3 separate regions of the Homo sapiens genome follow, and regions 2 and 3 are each linked to region 1. Evidence: fine-mapped QTL for protein levels in blood plasma. A gene starts in region 1. Each other region holds a variant in brackets. All regions are shown on one strand. Distances are between the middles of the regions.

What was found. PIP is the posterior inclusion probability: the model's chance that the variant is causal. The UK Biobank Pharma Proteomics Project read protein levels with antibody pairs (Olink). The fine-mapping took linkage between variants from a reference panel, not from the people measured, so its PIPs are less certain.
Region 2: its variant is fine-mapped to the plasma level of the IL20RA protein (UK Biobank, PIP above 0.99). The variant lies in the coding sequence of IL20RA. If it changes the protein, the assay may bind it differently, which can mimic a change of level.
Region 3: its variant is fine-mapped to the plasma level of the IL20RA protein (UK Biobank, PIP 0.94). The variant lies in the coding sequence of IL20RA. If it changes the protein, the assay may bind it differently, which can mimic a change of level.

The regions. Positions count from the first base shown.
Region 1 is chr6:137,042,193-137,047,503 of GRCh38, reverse strand. It overlaps IL20RA (interleukin 20 receptor subunit alpha), which reads left to right and starts at 2,539. Exons shown (of 7, transcript NM_014432.4): 1 at 2,539-2,863. The coding sequence starts at 2,776. RefSeq lists silencers at 2,727-2,786, 2,817-2,926, 2,997-3,046.
Region 2 is chr6:137,001,227-137,006,499 of GRCh38, reverse strand. IL20RA (interleukin 20 receptor subunit alpha) reads left to right here. Exons shown (of 7, transcript NM_014432.4): 6 at 1,740-1,879; 7 at 4,145-5,273. The coding sequence ends at 4,942. Among named protein-coding and RNA genes, the nearest start is that of NHEG1, 11 kb to the right of the region's middle. RefSeq lists an enhancer at 4,129-4,672. The variant C/T (reference allele first, on the strand shown) is at 1,849.
Region 3 is chr6:137,007,500-137,012,499 of GRCh38, reverse strand. IL20RA (interleukin 20 receptor subunit alpha) reads left to right here. Exons shown (of 7, transcript NM_014432.4): 3 at 1,048-1,226; 4 at 3,008-3,183; 5 at 3,757-3,901. Among named protein-coding and RNA genes, the nearest start is that of NHEG1, 17 kb to the right of the region's middle. The variant G/A (reference allele first, on the strand shown) is at 3,151.

The DNA.
Region 1 (5,311 bases):
GGTTAAACAGATGTTGGAGTACTAAAAAAGTAAAGCAGGAATACTGAGATTGAAAGAGACAGAGTGACTACTAGAAGCAACTACCACCGTCAGGGTTAAAGGAACACAGGGCAGACGTGGGGTTCAGATCCCAGAAGCGAAGCCTCCAGGAAACTGGGACTCAGACCTCTGAGAATGGGGCATAGCCTACTCAGTGCTGGTATTTCTCAGGAGATGCAGTGAAGCTGATTCTGGGAGTACAGGAAGAAGCTGGGAACTAGAAACAATTGCTCCTAGAACTAGCTGTCCCTGCCAGGGTAAAGAGGCACTGTGGGGCCTTAGTGACAAGAACAGCAAACAAATAGGAAGCAAGTCCCTTCTTTCCTCATCCAGCTTTCAGGATTCCTTCAGGGCCCCTTTTGGTGGAAAGGAAAAGAACCAGCTAACAAACAAGAAAAGTGGTTTGAAGAGGCCTCACGTCAGCACCACGAAGCTAACATCCCAGCCTAAGGGGCCCTCTGACCCAGATTCCTCCTCTGTTTCCAAGTCTTTCAGGAAGGAAAAAGTAGCATACTTAGGCGACTCAGAAAATCCTGCCCCATCTTCTATCTCCTTACTCCCTCCTCACCAAAAAAGATCTTTTTTAATACTGAAGACCCCCTTTAAAAAGAAAAAGAAAAAGAAAAAGAAAACAATAGTTGCTCTAATTTGAGTGTCGTTTCCCTTTATTGGAGCATTTGAAAACAGACATTTAAGGGCAAAAGAGATGGAACACATCTGAGGTAAATCGTGTATCTATCTTCAGGCTGTGCCCAACCTTTAGAACCACCTAGAAAGGTACAAAGCTGAGAGCCTCTCTCAGATTTTTCATATAGTATTTCAAGACTCACCTCTTAATTGCACCCTTCCCCCCTCCCATTATAAAGAGCATGGAACCTAGGACCCACCGCCTTGTGTGGAAGTCCACACACCACTGGTCACAGGCCACTCACAGGTTTGGGGGACTTCATGATGATTCCTAGACTTTCTGAGTTTCCCTTGCCTCATCTGAAAAAAGGGCCAGGACCTAACTGCAGGTTGTGAGAGTTGAATGAAATCAAATAACAACTTTTCAGTCAGTGACAGACTGCATATACAAAGGTGGTCTCATACGATTATAATAGAGCTGAAAAAATTCCTATTGTCTCTAAAGACCTTCCAGGAGGACAGGATGTGAGGTGGCATCAGTGGCACTGACAATCCTGACCCTGTGCAGGCCTAGGCTAATGTGTGTGGTTGTGCCTTAGTTTATAACAAAAAAGTTTAAAAAGTAAAGAAAAAATAAAGAAAAAGAAAAATTTAAAAATAGAAAAAGCTTATAGAAAGAATACAAAGAAAAAATATTTTCATACTGCTGCACAATGTGTTTGTGTTTTAAGTCAAACGTTATTACAAGTCAAAAAGTTTAGGTCGGGTGTCGTGGTTCACGCCTGTAATCCCAGCACTTTGGGAGGCCAAGGAGGGTAGATCACCGGAGGTCAGGAGCTCGAGACCGGCCTGGCCAACATGGCGAAACCCAGTCTGTACTAAAAATACAAACAAATTAGCCGGGCGTGGGGGCACACACATGTAATCCCAGCTACTCTGGAGGGTGAGACAGGACAATCATCAAAACCGGAAGGCAGAGGTTGCAGTGAGCCGAGATCGCACCACTGCACTCCAGCCTGGGCTACAGAGCAATGCTCCATCTCAAAAATAAATAAATAAATAAAGTTTAAAAGATTTAAAAGTAGAAAGTAAAAAATCATAGTAAGCTAAGGTTAATTTATTATTATTGAAGAAATAATTTTTTAATAAATTTAGCATAGCCTAAGTGTAATACAGTGTTTATACAGCCTATAGTAGTACACAGTGATGTCCTAGGCCTTCACATTGACTCACCACTCACAGACTCAGCCAGAGCGACTTCCAGTCCTGCAAGCTCCATTCATGGAAAGTGCCCTATACAGGTGTACCATTTTTAAAATCTTTCATACTGTACTTTTGCTGTACCTTTTCTACGTTCAGACATGTTTAGATACACAAATATTTACCATTGTGTTACAATTGCTTGCAGTATTCAGTATGGTCACTTGCCGTACAGGTTTGTAGCCTAGGAGCAAACAACAGCCTGTACCATATAGCGTAGGCGTGTAAGAGGCTATACCATATAGGTGTGAGTACACTCTAAGATGTTCACACAAGAAACTCGCCTAAGACATTTCTCAGGAGGTAATCCTGTCATCTTAAATGATGCATGACTGTAAGATCTACGGCTGAGTGCCTAACTGTATATCGAGAAATAACGCTCTATTTCATCCGTCTTCCGATATTGAACTTTAACTGACCATCAGACCGGCCTGAATACCAGAATCTCTTTGCAATGCACTCGCCTCGCTCATTACCAGAAGGAGGTTTTACCTGCCTAGTGACCTGGTTGGTCTGGGCATGAACCCCGAGAGGTGGAAACTCTCAGACTCTCAGGACTGACAGCCGAGTGGCTGGGGACTATAAATCCGCGAGAACTGCCCTCGCGCTGCCATCCAGCTGGGTAGCCGGGGGAGCGCGCGTGGGGGCTCCGCGAGTCGCTCGCCCTTGGTTTCTGGGGAAGCCTGGGGGACGCGGCTGTGGCGGAGGCGCCCTGGGACTCAGGTCGCCTGGAGCGTGGCACGCAGAGCCCCAGGCGCGGAGCTGAGGCCGCGCGGCCGCGCTTGGCCCCAGCGGGCGTGGGACTGAGCAGTCTGCTGCCCCCCGACATGTGACCCAGCCCCGCCGCCCATGCGGGCTCCCGGCCGCCCGGCCCTGCGGCCGCTGCCGCTGCCGCCGCTGCTGCTGTTGCTCCTGGCGGCGCCTTGGGGACGGGCAGGTAGGTGGGTCGCGCCGCCAGGTGCGGGTCGGGGATGCCTCCAGGCCGGGGCCCCGCCAGGCAGAGCTCGAGGCCGAGCTCTCCCCTCCTGCCCGCCGGCCAGGTTTCGCTTTCGGGCGGGCAGAGGACGAGGTGCGCGGAGGCCGGAGCTTCCAGCCCCGGGGCTGCAGGGAGCCCGGGGGACACTCGCCGTCGCCTCGCGCACCTTGGCTCGGGGTCAAGTTTGCAGGACTCCGCGCTCCGCACTTTCGGTCTCGAGAATTGAGGTGGGGTGGGGGGAGTTCGGTGGGGGGTGCGCTCTGCGCGGTGCCCACAGCCTATGACTTGCGGTCGGGGACGGTTACCATGCGGGGCCCCTCGCCGGCCAGTCCCAGGTTCCCGCCACCACCGCCGCGGCCGCGCGGAGGGGCCCCTGTGGATGCCGCGTCTCGGCCGCCGGGCCCCGCAGTCCTGCAAGCCGCGCGTCGCGAGATCCGCGCTTTAAAAGCCAAACTCCCCGAAAGGGTCAGCCCCGAAGGAACATGATCCAGAAAGACGCAGCTTCTTAAAGTAAGCTCCCCCTGTCCTGGGTACGCCGTTGTTTCCTTTGCAGTTATGACCATGTACAGATAGTGCTCTTTGATTTTTCAGAAATAACAAAACTTTTAACTCGTTTACGACATAAGGTAACTGAAGAGCTCTTTCGTTTTGTTTGGTTTTTAAGTTTAAATTCTCTACCAATTGGAATCCAGTAAACCAGAATGATTCATTAACCTGATTGCTTTTTTTCCCTGTATTTCTCGTACATGAGAAAAAGATTTTTTAAAAAAACAAAAAAGATATCCGGGATCCCTTTTTAAAAAAATTATTTTAAAAAACAACAACAAAGCTTCTCCAAATACTGTGCTTTGTAGACACTTCGTTCAGGCCCCGCTGTCTTTTAACCCAGAACTGAACAGTAAGAGTGAATGCAGGAAGAAAGTTGACGGTGAATCTGGAGTCCTTGGTAGTTAAAGAAAAAGTTAAATTCAATATAGTTACAACAATAAGAAAAGTATGCACACAGATCTTGGAGAGATTTTGAACGATAGCTATTATACATAAAATATTTTATCTTTTAAATTTATCAGAAATTATAGTTATTTTTCCTTTTAATATTCCCGGGTAGACTGAATGGGAAGAAACGACTGACGTGCAAATATTGAGCCTTCAACTAACAGACAGAAATTTGTTTTTATTTTTAATCGAAGAGAGAAGCTGGGCGCTGTGGCTCACACCTGTAATCCTAACACTTTGAGAGACAGAGACATAGGCAGGAGGATGGCTTGAGGTCAGGAGTTTCAGACCAGCCTGGGCAACATACGGAGACCCCTGTCTATACTAAACATTAAAAAAATAAAAATAAAAAACTAGCCAGACGTGGTGGCAAAAACCTGTAGTCCTAGCTACTCCGTGTGCCCAGGAGTTCCAGACTGCAGTGAGTTATGATCACGCCACTGCACTCCAGTCTGGCCAAGGGTGAGACCCTGTCTTTGGGGAAAAAACCAAAAACAAAGAAAGTGAGAGAGAGAAATAAAATTGTTGGGTGCTGACATTACCAGGTAGTAATGTTCTTGACTTCAAAATAAAATTTACAAAACAAAACAGTAAGAAATCTTTTCTGACCCAAGAGACCTTGATACTACTTTCTTAGCTCTTCTTAGGGTATTCCCGTCCTCTCCTGGGTCTTTGGGCTAAGGTCTAAGGACTGCTGGGAAGACCACCTTAGAAGATGTATGTAGTTACCTGGATACTACCTGCTCGTAATTGAAGGATTATCTACAATGTCTTCTGTACAACGTGGGCTTACTAAGGTTCTATGACTTTGCCACTCTCAGGTAGATTAATGCTTTAATGCTCTCATTTTTTAAACTTCTAAAAATTTTCGTCTCACAGCTCAGTGCCATATCAGGCTGTAAAATACCAAAACATCCAAAGAGGAAAAAAAAAACTCAGCATGTCATGAACCTTGTAGGGAAATCTTGGTATTTCATTTCAGATAAAGTTGTAATGGAATTCAAAATGTCTATGCGGCTCCCTCAAGGCAGGTGCAACACGCTGTCATTCACTCTTGGACCCCTCCAGGGACAGAATTTCACAGTGAAGTTTATCCTTATGGCTTATCAAACTCCGCCCTATTGGCCATTCCCATATCCTGTTCTCAGGAACGATAAAGAACCATGATTAGCATAATATAAACAGGCATTTAAAGTCACTAAGATAGAATGGGAGATGGTGACTTCTCAGGTCATCTGCCTCCTCTGCTCAAAGCCCTTCAGAGGCTTCTACTGTTCCTGGAATCATTCTCAGTTCTACAAGATCCTGTGTGGCCAACTCCTGCCTGTCTCTCCAGCCTTATCTCACACCACCTAATTCCTGCTATCCTGGCCTTTTTCTACTTCCCAGACAAGCCAAAGTGTTTCCCATCTC
Region 2 (5,273 bases), 41 kb after region 1:
GGGTTAGTGTATACTAAATGCTATCAGTCATTGTTATGACTTTTTTCAATTAGGACAGGCTCAATCCAGGGACCAGGGATTGTATTAAGAGGGTTGGACTGAGTTATAGGCTACAAGCAGGGCAGGTGGTGTTCTGACACCCGCAGCATCCGCATCACAGCATTGGCACGTCTCTGTGTGGAACCTGGTGATGAATGTGCTCCTTGGGAATTGTGCAGGGTAACAGGCCCGCATGCGGAACTTTTCCCACCGGCTCTTGTTGACCACCCTCATCAGCCATGACACATCTGTTTCGCTTTCAACTGGATAGTTAACCAGATAGTGACTTTGCTGCTTTCTCTTGGGCCCAAGCATCAAGAGCATCCAACATTCTCCTGGATTAGAATGCTCCGGTCACACTCCTGCTGGTTTTGTTAGTGTGTAAGGAGCACACTCGGACTTTTGTCATTTGTGCTGAAGCTGCTCTTTTTCCTACAGCTGTATCAGTCAGGATTCTCCAGAGAAACAGGACCAATAGAATACATATAGATGCACATATCGATATATTTATTTGTTTAGAAATATTGATTTATTTTAAGGCGTTGGCTCACAGGATCGTAGAGGCTGGCAAGTCCGAATTTATAGGATAGGCAGGCTGGAGACCCACGGAAGAGTTGATGTTTGCAGTTCGCACCCAAAGGTAGACTCCTGGCAGAATTCCCTGTTCCTTAGGGTCATCAAGACATTTTTTATGAAAGTCTTCAATTGATTGGATGAGACTCACCCACATTATAGGTAGTAATCTGCTTTACTCAAAAACCTGCTGATTGAAATGTTAGACTCCCATTAAAAAAAACAACAACAACAACAACAAAAACCTTCACAGAAGGCTCTAGAATAATGTTTAGCCAAATATCTGCATACTGTGGCCTAGCCAACTGGACATGTAAAATGTACCATCACAACTTCCAAGTATACCACAGTGGCTTAACAAGTATGAGCTAGTCACAATGAGCTCTAGTCATCAGCTATATGGCCTGATTAATGGTGTGGGCCAGGGCTGCTTTTATTAAAACGATTTCCCAGGTCTTTTCATTTCCTCTGCGGACTTTTACTCATCATGAGCCTACAGCACAGCAGGCCCGGGAAGGGAGTTAACTGCCATTCGCACTGCACCCTGTCCAGCCACCTCCCTACACACATCCCCAGGCTCCAGCCCTACCCAGAAAGTCCAGCCAAACAGTGCAAGAACAGTTCTGCTACTCATATAAAAGTGGCGTCATGCATTCATGTCTTTCAGTGAACATGCAGAAAGATTGAGTCAAACAGGTGGCGTGGAAAAGTGGAGCAATTCAATGGGATCTTCACTGGAGGGTTTTGTTGTTTGTTTGAAATTCTGTGACTTACTTGAATATCAAATACACTTACTTTGAAATATAAGAACCTGCATGAATCTCATAGCCAGACATACGATGGTGGAATATGTGCTGACTTGGATGATTGATGTATCCTTAGTGTAAACATTTGAGGTACACTCAGATGATTCCTTCAGACCGTCTCTTGTCAGGGAGAGTAAGAATTCTGAGACCGCTTATAACATTTAGCTTAAGCTTCTCAACGTAGAGGTGAGAAAACTGAGTTCCCAAATGTAAGTGATCTGCACAGAAGCAGCTTAACGATACGAGGTTTTTCCCATCACATCAAATCACAACTATCTAATCCCTTCCCCCGAATTCCCACCTTTTTTTTTTTTTTTACAGATCAATCATCAGAGTTCAAGGCTAAAATCATCTTCTGGTATGTTTTGCCCGTATCTATTACCGTGTTTCTTTTTTCTGTGATGGGCTATTCCATCTACCGATATATCCA[C/T]GTTGGCAAAGAGAAACACCCAGCAAATTTGGTGAGTACTTGGTGTGGCAGGGTTCTTTATTATAATAGTACACCTCCAGGAGGACAGAAGAGGAGGTTCTAGAACAGATTCAGTTCCCTTTAAGGGCAGAGTGAATTTAAAGTTAAATAGCTGGTGAATTAAAAAACAGTTTCTGGGCTGGGCATGGTGGCTCACGCCTGTAATCCCAGCACTTTGGGTGGCCGAGGCAGTTGGATCACTTGAGGTCAGAAGTTCAAGACCAGCCTGGCCAACAGTGTGAAACCCCATCTCTACTAAAAATGCAAAAATTAGCTGGATGTGGTAATGCATGCCTATAATCCCAGCTACTCGGGAGGCTGAGACAGGAGAGTCACTTGAACCCGGGAGACCAAGATTGCGGCAAGCTGAGACTGTGCCACTACACTCCAGCCTGGGTGACAGAGTGAGGCTCTGAGGCTCTGTCTCAAAAAAAAAAAAAAAAAAAAAAAAAAGCTTTCTGGATTAGCTGACTAACAGAACATTTTCCTTAGCTTTGAAAAGATGTTCTATTTAACCACCAGATTATACAAGGTCCCACAGATAAATTCAATCATGATCCCTGCCCTGCCCTTCTAGAAGTTCAAGCCTAGTCGAGGACTAGAATTTCAAAATAACACATGAAGGCTAAGATGAGAGCAGGCGCTGGGAATTCTGGGGGTACAAGGAGGGCCCCAAAACCCTACACAGGGGCTCAGCTCTCATGCCAGGGCTTGGCTATGAGAGGTGAGTAGGAGTTAGGATCCGTAGTGCAGGCAGAAGAAACAGCAAGGTGGATGTGTGGAAACTGCATGACACCCCTAAACAAGGAGGCTCCAGATGAGGAGCTAGAGAAGAAGATGAGACTGGAGAGTAGGCAGTGGGTCCAAGTAAGGGGAGAGCTGGGGTGCTGTTCTAAGGAGCTAGGCCTCATTCTACTGGCAAAGAGAAATCTCCATAGGGTTTTAGGTTAGGAGCATCATAGTCAGTATCAAGGTTTAGATCCAACCAGATATTAGTTCCAGGAAAACTTAGAGCGGAGTAAGACTAGAAACAAGAAAAGCACCTAGGGAACTGTAGCTTTGTCCAGGGGAGAGAAGATTCAAGTCTAACAGGCGAGAGTGGGATATCAGTCTAGAGAGAAAGACATGGAATGGAAACACACTTAGGAGGAACATGGCCATGACTTAATCCTTCACAGTAAGAAGAAGCAAGAAAGAAGAAAGAATTAAACCCACAGAGGTGGGACAATGTGCTGAAGGGTTCTGAAGGGCTGAGCATATTTTTAACAATCAAAACCATTTTCTTGAGAACTATTAAAAGATGTGTTCACGTGTACATGATAACATACCTTGTTTCCTGTTAGTTCAGTTTATAAGTTTTTCTATGATTCTGCCTGCATTCAGGTTTCAGAGTTGGCTTCTTAATGGCATTGGGAGACCTTTTCTGGAAGGAACATTCACAGGAGAATTGACCACCTGTGATTTTTTTGAAACTTAAAATGTTGTAAAAGATTGAGGCTGAAGGTTCTGTTTTGTAAAGTTAAATGAAATCACATGGTAGAGTGACAATGAGGATTGTAACTCATGCTCTCTTAGATAACAGGTATCTTTCATGGTACCCACAGCAATATTTTAATCTCATCTGAGCTTCCTTGACATGATTTAGAGTTTCTCTGTCTACCGTAAACTGGCAGATGAATTTCCTTTTTTGGCTCTATTATAGCATGATAAGAATGGTGTAAGGGGTAAAAACCATCCCTGCTCATATATTTCCCTCCTTTTCTACATCCAGTTCTCATGCCTGTCTGCATTTCAAGTATATCCAAAAACAGGGCAGGTAGCCCAGGTAACCACAGCTTATTAACAAGTGCATAGCAAACTATAAATAAAACAGTGTCACAAACTCTGCCACACCCAGTCTTTGCTACTCTTCATGTGGCTGAGATTCTGACTTTACAGAATGTAAAAAAGGTCAAGAAATGAAGCAACTCCTCTGCCAGTTAGAAGAGGGGGCACCAACGCCCCAGCCCCAGCCCTGGACTGGAGAAATACCCACCCAGCGAATCACTTCTCGCTTCCAACTATCTTTTGTGTGTCTTGGGTCTCTTGCCTCCCAGTGAGTGAGGTTTTCTGTATATTGCAAGCATAACTTTCATTTACATGAGTTGGTAAGAGTAGGTCTTTAAAACTGTCTGGTGACAAGATATTCTACCTAACAGCTGTTTTTAATGTCTCTCTAAAGTGAAAAGGTGAAAATCATTCTCTTTTCTCTTTATAGATTTTGATTTATGGAAATGAATTTGACAAAAGATTCTTTGTGCCTGCTGAAAAAATCGTGATTAACTTTATCACCCTCAATATCTCGGATGATTCTAAAATTTCTCATCAGGATATGAGTTTACTGGGAAAAAGCAGTGATGTATCCAGCCTTAATGATCCTCAGCCCAGCGGGAACCTGAGGCCCCCTCAGGAGGAAGAGGAGGTGAAACATTTAGGGTATGCTTCGCATTTGATGGAAATTTTTTGTGACTCTGAAGAAAACACGGAAGGTACTTCTCTCACCCAGCAAGAGTCCCTCAGCAGAACAATACCCCCGGATAAAACAGTCATTGAATATGAATATGATGTCAGAACCACTGACATTTGTGCGGGGCCTGAAGAGCAGGAGCTCAGTTTGCAGGAGGAGGTGTCCACACAAGGAACATTATTGGAGTCGCAGGCAGCGTTGGCAGTCTTGGGCCCGCAAACGTTACAGTACTCATACACCCCTCAGCTCCAAGACTTAGACCCCCTGGCGCAGGAGCACACAGACTCGGAGGAGGGGCCGGAGGAAGAGCCATCGACGACCCTGGTCGACTGGGATCCCCAAACTGGCAGGCTGTGTATTCCTTCGCTGTCCAGCTTCGACCAGGATTCAGAGGGCTGCGAGCCTTCTGAGGGGGATGGGCTCGGAGAGGAGGGTCTTCTATCTAGACTCTATGAGGAGCCGGCTCCAGACAGGCCACCAGGAGAAAATGAAACCTATCTCATGCAATTCATGGAGGAATGGGGGTTATATGTGCAGATGGAAAACTGATGCCAACACTTCCTTTTGCCTTTTGTTTCCTGTGCAAACAAGTGAGTCACCCCTTTGATCCCAGCCATAAAGTACCTGGGATGAAAGAAGTTTTTTCCAGTTTGTCAGTGTCTGTGAGAATTACTTATTTCTTTTCTCTATTCTCATAGCACGTGTGTGATTGGTTCATGCATGTAGGTCTCTTAACAATGATGGTGGGCCTCTGGAGTCCAGGGGCTGGCCGGTTGTTCTATGCAGAGAAAGCAGTCAATAAATGTTTGCCAGACTGGGTGCAGAATTTATTCAGGTGGGTGTACTCTGGCCTCTTGGTTCATTATTTTCAAACAAGCAC
Region 3 (5,000 bases), 35 kb after region 1:
TCAAGGCATCAAAAGTGAACATCTTATCTTCCCCTCCTGCTCTGCCTCCCCATCCATTTCCCAAATCTGTTCTGTCTCAGTGCTCTTTTTCGTAGTAAATATCACCACCATTCCACCCATCTGCCCCAGACAGAAAGAGACAGCATCCTTAACACCTTCATTTCCCTAATCTGTTACATGTTTTCTATCACCAAGTCCTATCTCCTAATATTTCTTGCTTTTGTCCTGTCCTTATTTATCCTACTGCCCCTGTCCTTGTCCAAGCGACCTACATCTTCCCCTGGACCACTGTAGTGTCCTCTCAGCTGTTCCCTAGGCTGCCACTTGTAACCCATCACCTTTCCCAAACTGCCTCCCCTGTCCCTTTCACTGGCTTATCACATGTTACCTGAACTCTACACTTCAGTCTCTCCCACCTGAAAAGGGCTGAAAATATTGCCACCTCCCTATTTGCTATGGGGGTTGTGTTTTTAATAAAGAAAAGGAAAATCAGTATGACCAATCTAGTCAATATTATCATCATCACTATAATTATCAAAAATGCAGATTTCTGTATGCACTCCAGCCTCGTGTATTTTCCCTAGAATCATTGATACTTAGATTTTTATATGCTATGAGAACGTCAAAGTAATTTTTCTTCCAAGAAAAAAATGACAAACTGTTCTTCAAACAATCCGTCAAACTGACCTCGTGTACATAGTAGACTAAAAACCTACACAGATAATTACTAGAAGAATTGATCACACAATATGTAAAAATTTCACTGTAGCCAAAGAATAACAGTAAAATATATGCTTCCAAAATATACTGTCCACATTATAATTCACAGAAAGAAAGGTGATTACAGAAACTCTGACTCATGTTCCTGACAGCTGATGAAAAAAATTGCCCACCGCAAAAGTGGATTCTTTTTTATCTCAATGACAGGCACTTTTGTTTTTCTGAAGAGAAGGTCGTCAGTTCCATTCAGTTTTATAAAATGACTGAGTTTTTTTATTGTAAAGTATAGAGGGCACCTCATTATTAATTCAGCTTCTTTCTTAGCAGATATGGGCAAAAGAAATGGCTGAATAAATCAGAATGCAGAAATATCAATAGAACCTACTGTGATCTTTCTGCTGAAACTTCTGACTACGAACACCAGTATTATGCCAAAGTTAAGGCCATTTGGGGAACAAAGTGTTCCAAATGGGCTGAAAGTGGACGGTTCTATCCTTTTTTAGAAAGTAAGTAATGCCATTATTGCAATGGTCAGTTAAACATGTATTCATATCAGGTTTAACAGTCTCAGCCTCACAGACAGCCTTGCCCAGAGGAAGGTACTCTGCTTGGCTGTATTCTGGACCAGTGGGTTGAGTGAGCAGGACAAAGTCCTTAACCTTGCTGGCTCTGAGTCTCACCTTGATTGACTGATTGATTGATTGACTGTAGAGACAGGGCCTCATTATGTTGCCAGGCTGGTCTCAAACTCCTGGGCTCATGCTATCTTCCCACCTCAGCTTCTCAAAGTGTTAGGGTTACAGGCATAAGCCACCGCACCCAGCCTGAGTCTCATCTTTAGAGTGAAAGGTTTAACCAAGTGGTCTCTAAGATCTCTCCCAGATCCAAAATTGATACTAGATGACAATGATATCAAATTTTGACTTTGTCTTACTACTTTGTGGAAGCTATGTAATTTGAGGAACAAAATGACTTTATTTAATGTGGGTTTATGGACTATTAATGTCTCCACAAGATTGATTAAACATTGTCCTGATTATCCACTATGCTTCTTCTTGTATGAACTTGGTAGTGTGATGATGTAATTTCCAAGTGTAACCCAGAATTAAGGCAACTTCTTCCTGGTATTTACTTTTAAAATGTTGCCATCCCCTGAGCTATGGCTGACTCAGTCATGAAGGACCCACTCAGGGCTGCCATAATGAGCTCTGCAAGTGCTCCATAAGTCCAGGAGCCCTTCCGGATCAGAGGTCAGAAAACTACCCTTGGGACAAATCCAACAACACCCTTTCTGTTTTTCTACAAGCCAAGAGTTAAGAATGGTATTTATATTTTTAAATAGTTTCTAAAAATCCAAGGAATATTTTGTGACATTGGAAAAGTAAAGGAAATTGAAATGTTGATGTCTATTCATAAATAAAGTTTTATTGGGGCACAAGCCACACTCATTTGTTTACACAGTTACCTTAGATTGCTTTCGCAATACAGCAAGAGTGGAGTAGTGCAACAAAGATCATATGGCCTGCGATGCCTGAAATATTTACTGTCCAGACCTTTAGGATAAAAGTCGCCTGGTCTCTGTTCTAGATCATTCTAATCACATCTCTGATTTTCCACTTATCAAGTCATGTTGTTGTCATTTATCACCAACTTTTCAAGTCACAGAAATCTTACAAACAGTTTTGATTGTATTAACCATCTACTGTTTATGCATGTGACTAAGGAAACAGAATACTTGAGTTTGCTGTTCTAACATGGGATCAGGCTGTGTGAAGGTTGGTTTCAAGGTTGGTTTCAGGATGGTTTCAAGATCTGGCATATCTCAGGCCCACCTTAGTACATTTTGGGGCATCTCCTGTAAGAAGGTGTCTTTTAAGGCTGGGCGCGGTGGCTCATGCCTGTAATCCCAACACTTTGGGAGGCCGAGGTGGACGGATCACAGGATCAGGAGTTCGAGACAAGCCTGGCCAACATGATGAAACCCCGTCTCTACTAAAAATACAAAAATTAGCTGGGTGTGTTGGCAGGCACCTGTAATCCTAGCTACTTGGGAGGCTGAGGCAGGAGAATCGCTTGAACCCAGGAGGTGGAGGTTGCAGTGAGCCGAGATCATGCCATTGCACTCCAGCCTAGGCGAGGGGGCAAGACTCCATCTCAAAAAAAAAAAAAAAAAAAAAAAAAAAAAGGATGTCTTTTAGGGCCTTGATCCAAGTAGGATTATATGGTAGCTTTACCTAAGGTAATTTTTCATCTGAACATGATAATACCCTCTTTCTCCCCCTTTAAGCACAAATTGGCCCACCAGAGGTGGCACTGACTACAGATGAGAAGTCCATTTCTGTTGTCCTGACAGCTCCAGAGAAGTGGAAGAGAAATCCAGAAGACCTTCCTGTTTCCATGCAACAAATATACTCCAATCTGAAGTATAAC[G/A]TGTCTGTGTTGAATACTAAATCAAACAGAACGGTAAGCCTGAAATGGAATGGGGCATACATTCATGTACCACTCTGTAGCTAATGTGGGAACAAACAACCCTGATGCATTGATTCTCTGCATGTGAATCTGGGAAGTCATGATGTTCAAAAGATACGCCGCACAAAATAAAGTTCTATATACAGAAATTTTACAGAACTAACTTCAGATCTTCTTTACAGAAACTCTGTTGACAGGATATGGTGTTGTTATTGGAGTGTAGAGAGATTGTACACTTCACTTTGATGAAGAGCTTTCACTTGCACAGTCTTTCTCTGAGAAGAAGAAAAAAATGTGAGCAAGGACCCAGGACAATGAATAAGAACTCTATCCATGTGTTGTTTAGAATTGTTCTCAGCATTGGTCCAGTTCCTGACCATGCTCTGCTGAGCTAAAGGAAAAGAGTATATTGAAACTGTTGCTGAAAAAAAAAAAAAAAAAAAAAGCTTATACTGATAGTAAAGAATTAAATGGTGCCTTGGTCTTCTATTTCCTTCTACAGTTATTTGTCTGGGGTGGTCCCAGAAATGTCTGGCTCTAACCAATGTTTGCAATTCCCTATCCTAGTGGTCCCAGTGTGTGACCAACCACACGCTGGTGCTCACCTGGCTGGAGCCGAACACTCTTTACTGCGTACACGTGGAGTCCTTCGTCCCAGGGCCCCCTCGCCGTGCTCAGCCTTCTGAGAAGCAGTGTGCCAGGACTTTGAAAGGTAAGCTTTAAAAAATCTTTGCTGGTCTAGGAAGGAGATCTGCTAAAACTAGAAGTCGGTATGATGGTTTAGACAAGGTTTTGACAAATCCGTGTCTAACAGAAACAGGTTGAGGCAAAGGCAGAAACAACTACCACCAGAAATGCGTGGAGCAGCCTGGGACTCTGCCATTGAGCTTGGCCGACGTTCAGAAGTGTTCTCACACCCTCGGAGAACTCATACAGGTCCCGTGTCCACTGCCAGCTTCTTTCCATGGTCCTTCGGCCACCTGCCTTGTGAATTAACAATGAAGAACTTTTACACATGCCTTTTTTCTTCTTTAAAATCATAATCACGCTGGGCATAGTGGCCCACACCTGAAATTTCAGCACTTTGGGAGGCCAAGGAGGGAGGATGGCTTGAGCCCAGGAGTTTAAGACCAGCCTGGGCAACATAGTGAGACCTCATCTCTATAAAAAATAAAATCAACCAGGCTTGGTAGTGCATGCCTGTAGTCCTAGCTACTCGGGAGGCTGAGGTGGGAGGATCACCTGAGCCCAGGAGAGGCTGCAGTGAGCCATAGGTGCACCACTGCACTCCAGCTTGGGCAACAGAGTGAGACCTTGTCTCAAAAAATAAAAAATAAAATCATAACCACTCTGATTGATAGAAATTCTGTGGTCTTCAAGAACATCAGACAATTTTATTGCTAGAAACAAAGCATTATTCTAAAACCACTGTAAAGCAGAATTCATTTTTTACTTTCCCTGGGGAATACTAATTATAGGTGCTTCCAGTTGTGTTCAAGTGCCACTAATTGGCTGCATGAGGGTCTGGGATCCACAAATCAGTGATCACTTCCTTATCCTTACAGTTGCTTCTCTCTATTTCCTTTTATTTATCTCCTCTTCACATTTTCTACACTGGGCTGCCAAGGAACCGTGATTGGAGATACCCATTCCTATGAGAAGACATAGAGTTGTGAGCTTGGCATTTGTTTAATTTTTCTGCCTTCACAGTGAGAGGAGCTTTAACTAAAAACTTGAAAATTGAAAAAAAATACATCCTAAAGTTTGCCTGCATCGAAGGGCTCTTCATCCATTATTCCTCCGCTTCTTTT